Linked DNA regions of Homo sapiens. The protein of the gene in region 1 purifies or fractionates together with the protein of each later gene. This does not show direct contact. Each region holds a gene or a part of one and is shown on either strand. Other genes may lie near its edges.

Region 1 (5,229 bases):
AAGAAACCCCATGTTCCTTAGCAGCCATTCCCCATTCTCCATGACCCCAGCTCCTAGCAACCACTAATCTACTTTCTGTCTCTATAAATTTGCCTATCCTGGACATTTCATATAAATAGAATCATGCAACTTGTGGCCTTTTCTGTCTGTCTTTGTTCACTTGGCATAATGTTTTCAGTTTCATCCATGTTATAGTATGTATAAGTACTTCATTCCTTTTTGTGGCTGAGTAATATTCCATTATGCCAATATACTAAATATATCACATTTGCAAAGGTTTTTCTCTGTAAAGCATTATTTGTAGCCTATTTTTGGTTGTATAGTTTTCAGTTTGTTGGACATTTTCTTTAAGTCTTTGGTGATGTAAAATTTAAGTGTAAAGAATTTAATTAACTTTTAAAGACTATCACAAGCTTATGTAATGCTACTGAATGTAAGCTTGCATTGGAACTCCAAGTGAGTTTTGTTGAGACTGGAAGGTGACTACTTTTGTATTCCTCACCATTTTAACAAAGTTGGCCTTTTACACAGTTGCCAACAGGCTGACCTGGAGGCATTGGCAACATCAAGTAACATAAATATCTTGATCTTGGGGCAGCATGTTTTGAAAAAGTGAGGCACATTATCTTCAAATGAAAAAGTTAGGCTCCATTTCAATTATTTTTCACTCAGCACCTACTTCAGTGTTTGTGGATGCGTTTACCCCTCATCTTCAGTGTTCTTAGAGCCAATGAGGTAGCCTGACATATGTATTAAGTGCTCAGTAAGGGTCTGTCAACTGACTAAAACTTGCTGTACAGGAGAAGAGCTCAATACAATTTGAACATTAGGCTGTCATTCTTACCATTATCCAGGAACAAGTTGTAGAGTTCACTAAGATATTGATTATTGGCAATTAAGAATGTCTTAGTGATCAGATCAGATCATTTTGTATCTAAAATGTCCTGATGTTTTGAACTGGACATAATAGACCAACTGCTTCTTTCAAATAACTTTCCAGACAAAAAATTTATCAGAATACATGAACCAAAACAAATTTTTCTTGACCCACTGAACAGGTGTATCTTATGGGAAAAACTACAGTGGCTTTCCTGTAAGGAGGCTTAACTATGAGTCATAGAGGAGAGGTAGATATTTTAAGAGCTTTTAAGGAATAATTTCTTCCAATTAATGAAGGAATTCAGGATCTTTGAATTAAGTGAATTATAGTGCTGCAAGGTACACTAAGTTCAAATGTTTAAGTATTATTATTAAATATGTAATGAATCAGATTCTGTACTTCTCAGTCACATCTTACTGCTTTAAGAGCCACATTAACAATAAATTATACCCAACTCCTCTGGAAGAATTAACTTCTTAATTTATGCTGGTTATAGAGTCTGAAATTCAATATGTTGTGACTCTCAGTTTGATCTATTTATCCTCTGAAAACAAATTGTAACCACATATAAAAAATATTCATGCCTTTTTCCCAAATAATAACTAGCCTCTATTCAGAAAATTAATTCCTTTTCATTGCAGAGTTGCAATTTTCTTTATTTCATTTCTCTCTCCTTTTTACGTATACTGTGGTTGCTTCCAGTCAGGGAAGTTTGCCAGGAGAAATCATTTCATTGATGAATTCATTTCTACTCTCATGTCTGCACTAGAGATTCAAGATCTTGCTTAAAATTTTATGTTGTGGGAATTTTGCTTCTGGCAAAAATTCAGGTTTTTCTGGAAGCATAAGCTGCGTTTTCTCATTCCCTTTAACTCCGAAAAGATTTGAGTACTGTCTAAAGTGAGAGATTTGCTTGACCACCCATTTGCTGACCGTTCAGACTGTTGCATGGAAATGGAACCCCCTCAGTCAGGACCAGAAGATCTCAAAGGAAGGCATAATTAAGAAGATGAGCCTGTGTTTCATTTTCAGTTACCATCTGCTCAAGTGTCTACTAGGTGCAGTTTCAGCACTGAGCATTTTATGTACATTTTCTCATTTCATTCTCCTCAAAACCCTTTGATATTGGTGTTTTCATCTTACACCTTTTACAAATGAGGGAACCCGGCACAGAGAACTCAGATAAGTTGCCTAACATCACAAATCCTGATTCAGCCTGTGTATTCCTTCCCAATCCAGAGCCTGAGGCTTTTCCTCTTTTCATTCCCAGGATCAATTTGCTGTTTGGCATTCACTAGCTTGCTTTCATGTGATGTGATGGTACATTTCACAGTCCCATTTGCTTTTCTGAGGATCCCTTTCATGATTTTGCCCATGTACTCTTGTATTACTTTTTTATCCTTTTTTGAAAATTAAGGCATAATTTACATTTTTACCATCTTGAAAGTTTTCACCGATGCATATGGTCATGTAGCAATCACTGTGATCCAGATACAGAATCGTTCCAGCCATGCTACTTTAACTACTCATTCACTAGATGTTCACTAAGTGCCCGACATCTGCAAGGCACCATGCTAGGCGCTGATAATTCAGCTATGCATCAACATACAGAGACTTAAACTCATGATGCTCACAACCCAGTTAATCTGATTCAATCCCACAATGAAAACTTTCTTTAAATCTTGTTTTAAAGATACTTTTTCTGTTCACAACTAGTCGAAAATAAGTCTTTTCCAAATATCTCTTAATGTGTTGAATATGTTAACTCTCAAATACTTTAAAATGCTTCCTGCTCCATTAAGAATTCCAATGGTAAAAGTCAGAGCCAATTTAAACAAGAGAGAGATATGTGTGTATATACATATATAAATGTATATATATGCATATACATAAAAGTGTATATATATATATGTGTTTGTGTATATATATATAAAATATATACATTTAAATTGTATTTCAACTTTTAGTGTCTTATTGAGATTAATTCCTAGAAGTAACTTCAGATTACAAAAGGAAACCAATTTTTCTCTGTGTTTAAAGAAATTAAAGAAATTAAAGAAAGAAAAAATATCATATAGCACAATCTTAAAACACTTGTATTTTAGAAATGTCCTGTTTAATACCATAGCCACTAGGCAGATGTAGCTATGTAATTTAAAATTTATTAAAATAAAACAATTCAGTTCCCTAATCACACCATCCACATTTCAAGTGCTCAGTAATCTGTGTGGCTAGTGGCAATCACATGGGACAGTGCAGACATGGAACATCTCCATCTGGCAGTGTTGTTTTGGAACAACAACAAAAAACGCTGGTAAAATAATGATTGATAGAACTCATGAGGAGTCATCAACTCAACTAGAAAAATTTCTAAAGTCATTGAAATTGTTTGAAGTGTTCGTGCATGTGAGTTAGTTATGGTTTGTGTTGTGTTAGCCTGCAAACATCCTAGAAACATGATGGGGCCTTTGGTAGAGCAGTAATAGGTGAAAAGAGTTCAGTGGCCACTTTGTAGCCTTTATGGACTGAGGTTGAACAGAAGAGATTAACTGCTGGTTCGGGAGTGAGTGCTCTGCTCCCATAGTACATTTTCCATAATTTGTTCTGTTATCCACTGTATTGTTTTTCAATTTATCTGTCTCCTTGACTCGACCACATTATTTGAGGGTAAAGAATCCATTCTTACATTCATCATTCATTCATTGTTAAATTCATTCATTGAAGAATTCAATGAAAAATTCAGTCAACATTGCATTCTTGAACTTAGCACTTACAGTAGGTGCCAATAAATCTTTAATGTATAAGGTTATAGAAAGATTGTACCATGAAGCTTCTTAGAAAAAAAAATAGTTGTTTGTTGTTGAGACTGGCCAATTTTCACTGGTCTTTCCCTCTTTTGATTATGATCTCAGTCCGGGAGTAAGGTCAGCATTCACCTTGACCTGTCCATCTTTAATGTCACTTCTGGTACGCGAACTTCACTTTCACTGATTCTCCCAGAAATACACGTAAGCATATAGGCATCCTCTATGAGGTTGGAGCTGTCATGAATGTGATTAATGCCTGTACAAGCATTACATAGATCCAGACACTATCTGTGCATGGAAAATAAAGTTCCTGTGATTGATACTGAGTGTGTACTTACAGAAGCAGTCTTGAGTGAGCTTTTAATTCTAGAGGAGTTGGCACCAATGAGTTTTGGATACATCCCAGGGGGCCAGAACATCAAGTCAGCTAGTGTGCCACTTTGTATGTGTACAAGTGCATGCGCCTGTGCTGCTCTGGTGTTGGGGAGGAGAGGGCAATGAGGGATGCAGGATGGTCAGTAATGAGTAAATAAAGTATCTTGAGCCCATGAACACTGTATTTTCAGTCAGCCAAAAGCTATCATATTGGTTTAAGTCTTCTCTAGTCAAGAAGGCCGTAAGAGATAGTGACACAAAACAGTTTTGAAAACCAGGCAAATGATGGGAAGTGCAGTTTTATCATGTGGATGTACGTGCTTTTGGAGTTTGTCAATAGTTTTATCATTAATCCTAGAGAGGATGTGCTACACAAGTTTAACTCTGCACATAGCAAATATTTGAACTGAGTTGAATTCAAATGGAATGGGACATGGGATCAGTTAAAAATCTTCATAGGAGTCAAAAGCAGAAAAAAAGGAGATGATCTTTTGTTAGGATATTTGCTTTATTTTCTTCTCAACTACCTTCCTCCCTTCCTTTTTTCTTTCCCTCCTTCCTTCTATTTTTCCTTCCTTCCCCTTTCCTCCCTTCTTCCCTCCCTTCCTCCTTTTATCCTTCATTCCTTTAATCCTTCCTTCTTTTCTTTTTCTTTTTTTGTTGCTATTTCCTCTTCAGCTTCACTTTCTTTTAGCATGAGTTTAAGATAATTAAATAAACTTAAGTTTGCTCAGCACCTTGATGAAAAGTTTGATAGGGAAGAGATTAATGCTATTTGAAACCATTAGTTAAAAATATTTTTACTGTGTTAATATCATTTGGGGGTCTTTGTAGTTAACAAAATTTTTAAAGTATGAGTTGGCAGATGTTTTTGCCTAAATATTCCAGTGTGGTAAAATGGGCTGATTGTCTTTGTTTTCCCCTTCTGATATTTGCCCACAGATATTAAAGTAAACTCAGTTATTTTGGGTACTGGTTAATGTGAAGTTTTTGGCCTTATTCAATAAGTACAAGTCAATTTATGTGCATGCTAACAGGGGATAGTTTTTTTTACAAGTTTCCTTGGAAATGTAGTACTTGGGTACTTGGAAATAATTTATTCATTAGTAAGAAAGAAGGATTTTCTGTTAGAATATCCATAACTATGATGAGAATACAGATATTTTC
Region 2 (4,593 bases), on another chromosome or scaffold:
AGTCTAACTCCCTGGCTTGGCTTCCCAGGCCCTATAACCAGTCCTCTCTGCTTCCTGTTCCTCTGTAACAGGGGTAAACAAACCACAATCCGGGGCCAAATCTGACCCATCACTTGTCTTTTTTCAGCCCAAAAACTAAGAATGTTTTGCATTTTTAAATGGTTGGGGGAAAAAAAATCAAAAGACTATTTTGGGCTGGACACTGGCTCATGCCTGTAATCCCAACACTTTCGGTGGCCGAGTAGGGTGGAGAGCGTGAGCCCAGAAGTTCAGGAGTTCAAGACCAGCCTGGCCAACATGGTGAAACGCCGCCTCTACAAAAAAATACAAAAACTAATGGGGGGCGGTGGCAAATGCCTATAGTCCCAGCTACCTGGAAGGCTGAGGTGGGAGGATCACTTGAGCCTGGGAAGTCAGGGCTGTAATAAGCTGTGGTCATACTGCTGCCCTCCAGCCTGAGCAACAGAGTGACACTGTCTCAAAAAAAAAAAAAAAAAAAATGTTATTGAAACATAGTCACATTCATTCACATCTGTAGTGGCTGTGGTTACTTTTGCACTACAATGATGGAGTTGATTAGATGCAACAGAGACCTTAAGGTCTTCAATGACTAAAACATTTACTGTCTGGCCCTTTACAGACAGTCTGTCAATCCCTAATTTATTATATGCCTTCTTCTCCCTCAGCTAACTAATTGCCTCACCCCAGGAATGTTCATTACTACCTCTTCTTTGTTCAAGCCCCAGCTACTCCTCAAAACCCAAAATTCCCTTCTTCCCCTTTCCCAAATCCTAACCATATCAGCAGTTTGTGTGGAAGTAGGTAAGCAAAACACCATTCGTCATTATGTAAAGCAAGGCATTGGAGATGCGGTCCCTACATGTACAAGGGGAGGCTGATTACCCCCCAATTCATTTCCAATTTCTCAAAGCAGGTTGGCAGGCTAGCACCTAGGAAGGAGAGAGTGAGCAGATGATGCAGACAGAGCACTGAGAAACTCCTCAGTAACTCATGAGAGTTCATGTGTCAGTCCCCTTGTCTGCTATGTCATCCTTTAGACATCAATTCAAGACAGCAAAATTCAAAAAAGAAATGAGGAAGAAAAAGGTGATGAGGGGCAGAAGGAAAATAGAAGAGAACTTGTCACTTCACAATGTAGAGACTGTCACAAACTGTGGTGAATGGAAAACTATTCTGTTCACCTGGGCGTGGTGTCTCACGCCTATAATCCCAGCACTTTGGGAGGCTGAGGCGGGCAGATCACTTGAGGTCAGAAGACCAGCCTGAGCAACATGGTGAAACCTGGTCTCTACTAAAAATACAAAAAATTAGCCGGGCATGGTGGCACATGCCTGTAATCCCAGCTACTCGGAAGGCTGAGGCATGAAAATCACTTGAGCCCAGGAGGTGGAGGCTGCAGTGAGCTGTGATTGCACCATTGTTGCCCTACAACCTGGGCAACAGAGCTAGACCTGTTTCTAAAATAATAAATAATAATAATAATAATTAAAAAAATAAAATGTACATTTCTAACTTCATTTCAAAGTTAAGGCCAGGTGCAGTGGCTCATGCCTGTAATCCCAGTATTTGGGAGGCCGAGGCAAGGGGATCACTTGAGCCCAGGAATTTGAGACCAGCCTGTGCAAAATAGTGAAACCTTGTCTCTAAATTAAAATAAAATAAAAAGTAAACAAAGTCAAATTTTTTTTAAAAATCAGAAGAGAAACGTTGAACTGCATACTTCCAGGCCCAACAGAGTAGAGGTCAGCACAGGCGCAACCAGGTTGCATATCTACATACAATCTGCCCTGGCAGGAAGGATATCCTTTTCTTCCAGGTTTAACCACTCTAGGTGACCCAGATTATTTTAAATTATAGCGTCAACAATTTAAAGCAGCTTTTACTGTAAGGCACAATCTCAATAATTAATAGGGCAATATAATAAATACATAAAAGCTCAGGGAGAAAACAAGACTCTTGAATGGGCCTGGAAGTTTTGCCACGTCCCCCGAAGTACTCTCGGTTGCATCCTTCGGAACCTTTCAACACATATACATATACCTCCCTCATCCTTTTGTGAAGAGTGTCTATTAATCACTAGATTAAGAGGATTTGGATAAAATTTATAAACGTACAAACTGTGCTACCAAGGACTGACACATTTACTTTTCTGGCTCATCAGTTTATGTCCTAGAAAAACTCCAGATCCACATTAACCAGCTGTTTCCTATTTTACATTTTACGATGGTGTTTCCACTTTCACCTGCAAAGTGACTAATAGTAATACCTATTCCAGTAATTTAAGTAACACCATTTAGAGTAATTTCATCTTTAGTACTGTATTTATACTACTAAGAAAGCTGCCAACGATTCAAGCTGCACTCACTGGTGAAACCCTATGCTATATATGTAATTAATTTATTTCCTAAATTCTTACCTCCCTCCACCCCCTCCATTGGAAAATAAACTCTAAGAATGCAAAAGTTTTTGTGTGTTTTTCTTTAACGCTTAGAGCAGTGCCTGGCACCTAACAGTCAATATCTGCTAACTTTGATGAATGAATGGTATATTTATATTATGCAATATTACTATGCAGCCATGAAACACAATGAGTTAGAGTGGTACCAGCTAATTTAATGGAATTTCCAGAAGTATGAAATTAAGAAAACAAGAAGAAAAGTGTCAAAAATATCATCCCACTTTTTTTTTTCTTCCCTGAAACGGAGTCTTGCTCTGACACCCAGGCTACAGTATAGTGCTGCCATCATGGCTCACTGCAACCTCAAACTTCTGGGCTCAGGGAATCCTTCCACCTCAGCCTCCCATGTAGCTGGGACTACAGGTGTGTGCCACAACGCCCAGCTAATTTATTTTAAATTATTTTTTGTAGAGACAGGGTCTCCCTATGTTGCCCAGGCTGGTCTCAAACTACTAGGCTCAAGTGATCCTCCCACCTCAGCTTCCTGAAGTGTTGGGATTACAGGTGTGAGCCACTGTGCCCAGCCTAATCCCACTTTTTAAAAAGTATACCCCCAAATCCATACACTGGTGAGGAAGTGGAGAACGTGGAATCCTCATACACAGAATTTAAAATGGTACAGCTCTGGAGAACATTATAGCAGTTTCTCAAAGTGTTTAACATAGCTACTACACGACCCAGCAATTCAATTCCCAGATATACACCTGAGAGAACTGAAAGGATATGTCCACACAAAAATTTGTAGAGGAACTTGTACACACTTGTTCACAGTAGCATTATTCTTAATAGCCCAAAGTGGCAAAAACGCAAATGTTCATCAACTGATGGACAAATAAAGCATGAACAACTGATGGACAAATAAAGTATATCATTCAGCATATAAGAAATGAAGTGCTAATACATGCTACAACAGGGACAGACCTTGATAACATTTTGCTAAATGAAAAAAGCCAAACAAAAGGTCACATGTTGTATGATGCCATTTACATAAAAATACCTAGACTAGGCAAATCCATAGAGACACAAAGATCAGTGACTGCCCAGAGCCAGAGGGAGTGGTGAATGTGAAATGACTACTAATGAGTACAGACTTCTTTTTGAGGTATTGAACATGTTATGGAATCAGATGGTGGTGATCAATGCATAACTTTGTGAATATACCAAAAACCACATGAAAGGTACACTTTAAAAGCCTGAATTTTAAGGTATGTGAATTATATCTCCATAAACCTGTGATTTTGTTAATATACGCTTATTTGCAAATGAATACATGGATAATGAGGAATAATATGAAAGGTTAATGACAACCTTGGTGATAGGGTACCGGAGACTGGGAGAGGAAGATAAGTGTTGAGGTAGAAGAAGACAAAAAATAAAAGACCAAAACAATAATCCAAAGCCAGGGGCCATGAGTTGGGAGATGGAGCAAGACGAAGTGTACAAAGAAATGAGCATAAATCATAAAAATGAGGGAACTAGGGTTGAAAAACCCAGTAAGTAGTTTGTAATGGGGGAGACGAAGCAAACCTAAGTAACTGCAATGATTCAACAGAATTTGCAGAAAATGCAGAAGGGCGAGAAAAACAATGAAAAAATGGATCAGAAGATTTAAAATTGGCTCTACCCCACCAAAGTTTTAAAAAGCAAGCAAGAAGAAAATTCAGTTGCTCCTGGGCAAGAATTCTTGGGCCCAGTGGGGTAGAACCAAACCATGATAAGGAGACACCAGTGTTTTGTAAGCAAGAGAATATATTAAGGAGAGAAAAGGGGCATTTATTGGGAGAAAAGGTCTCACTGTGATTGTTCTGGAATAAAGTAGCCCCATCGGACTGCCTCAGGAACTCATGATGGAAGAGGTGCCACTGGAAAATGGCTTAGTCGGGATCTTCCCCAAGAACACTAGAAGAGAGAGAGGAAGAATAGAATAGCTTTAAATTTTAGCAGATATTTCTTTTTCTTGTTTAATTAAAATAAACCTTATTGACCTAATATTTTTGAGACTGGGCTCTTGCAATGCTGCCCAAGCTGAACTCAAACTCCTAGGCTCAAGAGATTCTCCCACTTCAGCCTCCTGAAAAGCTGGCACTACAGGTGCGCACCACTGGGTCCAGCAT
Region 3 (4,482 bases), on another chromosome or scaffold:
TCATAGCAGCACAATGACTGGCTCAATATTTATTCAAGCCATATCTATGGTTTGCAAGAATAAATGAGAGGCTAGAGGAAGTGAATTTGGAAGCACTGCCCTTCAGTGTCAAAGACCTGGATAGGTGCCACCTTACCCAGGAGCAGGACGTGAGAGAAGAGCTTATGGCAAGCTGGGGCAGGGAGTGTCCCATCAGTGGTGACCAAACCTATGGGTCCATCTTCCAGAGGCTCAAGGAACTCCAGGGTGTAAAACTATGTAAAATTAAGTTACACCCTGGAGTCACAGCCCTCCAGCAGCATCCCCCTCCCACTCCCAGCCTGTTGCAGCCAACAAGACCCCCACAGACAAAAACAGCTCTCTCCTGTCTCCTGGGCAGCAAGCTTGGAGACATGGCCAGTTCTTTCCCTGGCTAAGGGACAGGGGCCTGGATCATCTAATTCCTGAAGGCAGCACTACCAATTGCAAGGGCCCTTGGCTCCTAAGCTGTTTCTCCCCCTCCACCCATTCCCAGAGCTTCCCACCTTCTATATCAAGACAGGATGGATGGGTTCCCCCAGGACCAGCTCAGCCAAAATGGAAGGACTTTGCCCCCAGCACAACAAGGTGGGTCACCCCATATCCTACACATTAGACGTACCTTTCCCAGACCCAAGACAAATGCCATGTTCCCCAGAGGAAGAGGGAAAGGGGGCGGGAGGAAGTCTAGAGCAAGGATTCAATGGAGAAGGAGAAACCAAGAGGAGCTTTGAGATCAGAATTAAATTCTTTAATACAAAATGCTTTTTTTTTTTTAAGATATATCTGTATTTCTTTGTCGTTGTTTAAAAATAAATATGTACTACGGAATATCTCGAAAAACTGCACTAGAGACAAAGACGTGATGTTAATATCTTTTCCCCACAATTATTACGGATAAACAGTAGCACCAATAAATAAATGATAACAAATATTAAAATTAAAAAAGGAGAGAGATTTAGTATGTAGAATTCTCTATTTTTTCTTGTTTTGTTTTTACATATAAAAAACAGAATAGCAATGTCTATTTTATCAGAATCACATATATACATAAACATATATATATATATATACACACAAATACAAGTTGCCAAATATATATATAGTATGTAGATGTATATTGAAACCTTATTTCAAAGGAATGTGTGCTGGGGAGCCAGGGGATCGGGGAGGGCAGAGCTGAGTGTTAGCAAAATTAAATATCTGTTCAAGATAAGCTAGTGACTGTCACCGATCAGGGAGAGAGAGATTGGAAACATGAATTTTATATACAAAAACCGGTACAAATAAGAGAGCAAGAGAGAGCAAAAGATACATCTCATAAATAGTTGAAATTAAATATTAACCAAGAATACTGAAAAAAAACCCTACTCTTTAATTAAATTAACTGTTTTAATTTCTAATTAAAAAGGGATATTAAATAAGTACCGTATATAAAACACTTTCTCTTTTCTCTGCCTCCACAATGGGCACGTGGATCCTGCCCTGTCTCTCTGTGCCTCGGGAAGGGAAGGGAAGGACCAGGGGATGGAGGAAGGTCAACCACTCACACACACACAACCAGGTCTCCTGGGGGGACAGAACTAGTGGTTTCAATGGTGTGAGGACATAGGTCCTTTTAGGCTGCACCCCAGGAAGGGGAGCAGGAAGAGGATGAGGGCGAGTCCCAGGAAGGGGAGCTGTCATGGGCTGCTTCTTCCAACAATGTGTCTCTTCTCTTCGCCGGGACATCTGCCAGTGGTCTCCTGGGCAACTCAGAAGCAGGTGAGAGTAAGCGAAGGCCGCCCAGGCTCCTGAATCTTCCAGGCAGTGCCCCTGGGGGCGAGATGCGCGTGCAGCATGTGGAGGGAATCCCCAAAGCACAGCAATGTCCTGAAGCTCCCCAAACTCCTGGTCAGAGCCGGTGTCCTCATCCCTGTACCTGTGATCTGTCTTTCTGTCCGTCTGACCTGGGGTAGAGAGGCTCAGCGCCAGGGCTGGGTTTGTCGGTGTTCCCAAAACTGGGTCATATTTGCCCCCATGCCCTGGCCTTGCACATTCCTGGGCAGGGGAGAGGACCCTGGCCCCACCAAGTGGGACAAAAAAAAGATCATGCCAGAGTCTCTCATCTCCTCCTCTTCCCTGTCAGGATCTGAGTGGGAACATTCCCCTCCCAACTCAAGTCCACAGCAGTCAAATACATCCAGTGAAGACACCAATAACATTAGCACTGTTAATTTAAAAAAAGAATATATATATTTTATATATATAAAATAGAGATATTTATTTTTATATATATATAATATATATATATATAAATGTATGTATGTGGGTGGGTGTGTCTACAGGAATCCCAGAAATAAAACTCTCTAATCTTCCGGGCTCGGTGATTTAGCAGCAAGAAAAATAAAATGGCGAATCCAATTCCAAGAGGGACCGTGCTGGGTCACCCGCCCGGGAATGCTTCCGCCGGAGTCTCGCCCTCCGGACCCAAAGTGCTCTGCGCAGAGTCTCCTCTTCCTTCATTTCAGGTTTCTGGATTAAGGACTGTTCTGTCGATGGTGATGGTGTGGTGGCGGCAGCGTGGTTTCTGTATCGATCGTTCTGTATCAGTCTTTCCTGGTGAGAGATCTGGTTCCCGAAACCCTGAGGGAGGCTCCTTCCTCCTGCCCGGCTCACCGCCTCGGCTTGTCACATCTGAGGGAAATGGAAAACAAAGGCTGGGGTTAGGGCCAAGTGAGGAGGCCTGGCGATGAGGCAGGCGGCCTCCCCATTCCTGGGGGCCCCTGGGTCACTGCAGCCTCCGGCACCATAAGAGCAGAGAGGACAGGAAGGTGTGGTCCTGGGGCAGAAAGCCCCAGTATGAGAACAGCCCCAGCCCTGCCCTCAGGGAGCCCCGGCCTGAGCAGCAGCTCCACTCAGGGGCTCCCAGTCTACCCTCCTGAGCTTGCAATCTACTTGAGACAAGACAAGGACATGGGAACACTTTACAAAGCAACAAATGAACGGATACCAAAGAACAGTCCCCACTTGACATTTTAAGAGCTGATGGGTGACCAGAGCTGGATGAAGTTAATCAGAAGAGGCTCCCTGCTGAGGAGGGTTTTCAGTTCAGTCTCTAGGGGCTGGTGTGGGGAAGAGAGTGGGCAGATCTTCTGGGAGAACGCCTGAGGCAGAGAGGCTTGGCCGGGTGACCAACAATGGCAAGGGCCTGCCCTGGGGACAGGAGGCTCCCGAGGGGGTAGCGTAGAGCAGGAGGCCCCAGGAAGGTGAGGGACCATCTCCATTCCCCATGTCCCCTCCCACTGTGGCTGTAGGCCTCATCTCTCTTGAGCTGCCTGGAGGTTGCAGGCCCAGGTAACAGGTTGTCTTTCCTTTCAAATATGCTGCTTCACTTAGGATGGGGAGAGACAATTCGGCGGCTTCACTACTCCAGCTGAAGCAAAGGGGGCCTCCAAGAACTTTCTCAGCATGCCCCTGCCCCTGGGTGATTGTGAGAAGGAGGCAGAACAGGCCCTACCCTTCTGGGGAGCCCCGAAACGGAGTCCTAAGCCTCCAATTTTGGAAACTGATATTCCCAGATACAGCCAGCTTGGGGGTTGGGTAAAGGTATTGGGAGGTTAGAGTAACTTCAGTTAGCTCCCAGGTCACTTCACACAAACCCCCATCAGCAGAATAATCACCTAAAAACCCTAAAATGTCAAGTCCCTTATCTTTCCCAAGGACCCCTGGGGAACTGAGACTCCCCTCATCCAGCCCTGAAGTTAGGCAGAGCCCCCACCCCAGCACTAATATACGCCCTCTTGGTTTCACATAGGGCCAAGACAGACAGCACCCCACACCAACTACCCAGGCCTGGTTCCCAGCATCCCCTGAGCACACACAAGCCACAAGAACATTGCTGGGGGAGGGGAGACACTCCAAGGACTTCCCTAACACAGCCTCGGGGTGAGCTGGGGGTGCCTTGGCCCTGTCTAGGAAATCCCCACAAAGTCTTGCCTCCCTGACTGACGCTTACCCTGACCCCCAGGGCCTCCCTCACTCTGAGCACAGGCCAAGTTGGTATAAAGAACATAAGCTAAGGCATTAAAAGATGCCAGCCACCTGTCCCGACCCTGTGCTCCTGACCTCACCCTCTGAACTGAGTCACACATTCACTCATGCACTTGACACTTCCTTGGTCCCCAGTATGGGCAAAGGAAAGAGGTACAGATGCCCGGGGCTCACAAAGGTACGTAAACGAGGCCCGGGCTTACGGAGCTCACAGGCTAATGTCAGGAGAATGGGCACAGACCCCTCCCTCCACGCATCCTGGGGGCACTTGAAAATGTGTGGGCTGCTTGGGGTTGTCACCATGACTGGTGGAGGATTAAAGGTATCTAGTATTCTTGGATGCTACAGCTCCTTCAGTGTGTAGGCAAAAGTGCCCCATCCTAAACGAACAGCCAGACCCCTTGCCCTCAGAGCCCCAGTCTGAGGAGGGAG

What was found. Proteins that work in one complex are often made in the same cells at the same time.
Region 2: the proteins of PTPRZ1 (region 1) and SPECC1L purify together in Homo sapiens (affinity purification with mass spectrometry; one large-scale study listed by BioGRID and IntAct). This does not show direct contact.
Region 3: the proteins of PTPRZ1 (region 1) and VEGFA purify together in Homo sapiens (affinity purification with western blotting; one study listed by BioGRID). This does not show direct contact.

The regions. Positions count from the first base shown.
Region 1 is NC_000007.14:121,875,173-121,880,401, forward strand, and holds part of PTPRZ1 (receptor-type tyrosine-protein phosphatase zeta isoform 1 precursor), read left to right. Parts: intron 1-5,229. UniProt on the Homo sapiens protein: Protein tyrosine phosphatase that negatively regulates oligodendrocyte precursor proliferation in the embryonic spinal cord. Required for normal differentiation of the precursor cells into mature, fully myelinating oligodendrocytes.
Region 2 is NC_000022.11:24,276,485-24,281,077, reverse strand, and holds part of SPECC1L (cytospin-A), read right to left. Parts: intron 4,379-4,593; 5' UTR 4,275-4,378; intron 1-4,274. UniProt on the Homo sapiens protein: Involved in cytokinesis and spindle organization. May play a role in actin cytoskeleton organization and microtubule stabilization and hence required for proper cell adhesion and migration.
Region 3 is NC_000006.12:43,782,753-43,787,234, reverse strand, and holds the end of VEGFA (vascular endothelial growth factor A, long form), read right to left. Parts: intron 2,695-4,482; coding exon 2,673-2,694; coding exon of another isoform or gene 2,607-2,672; 3' UTR 748-2,606; downstream 1-747.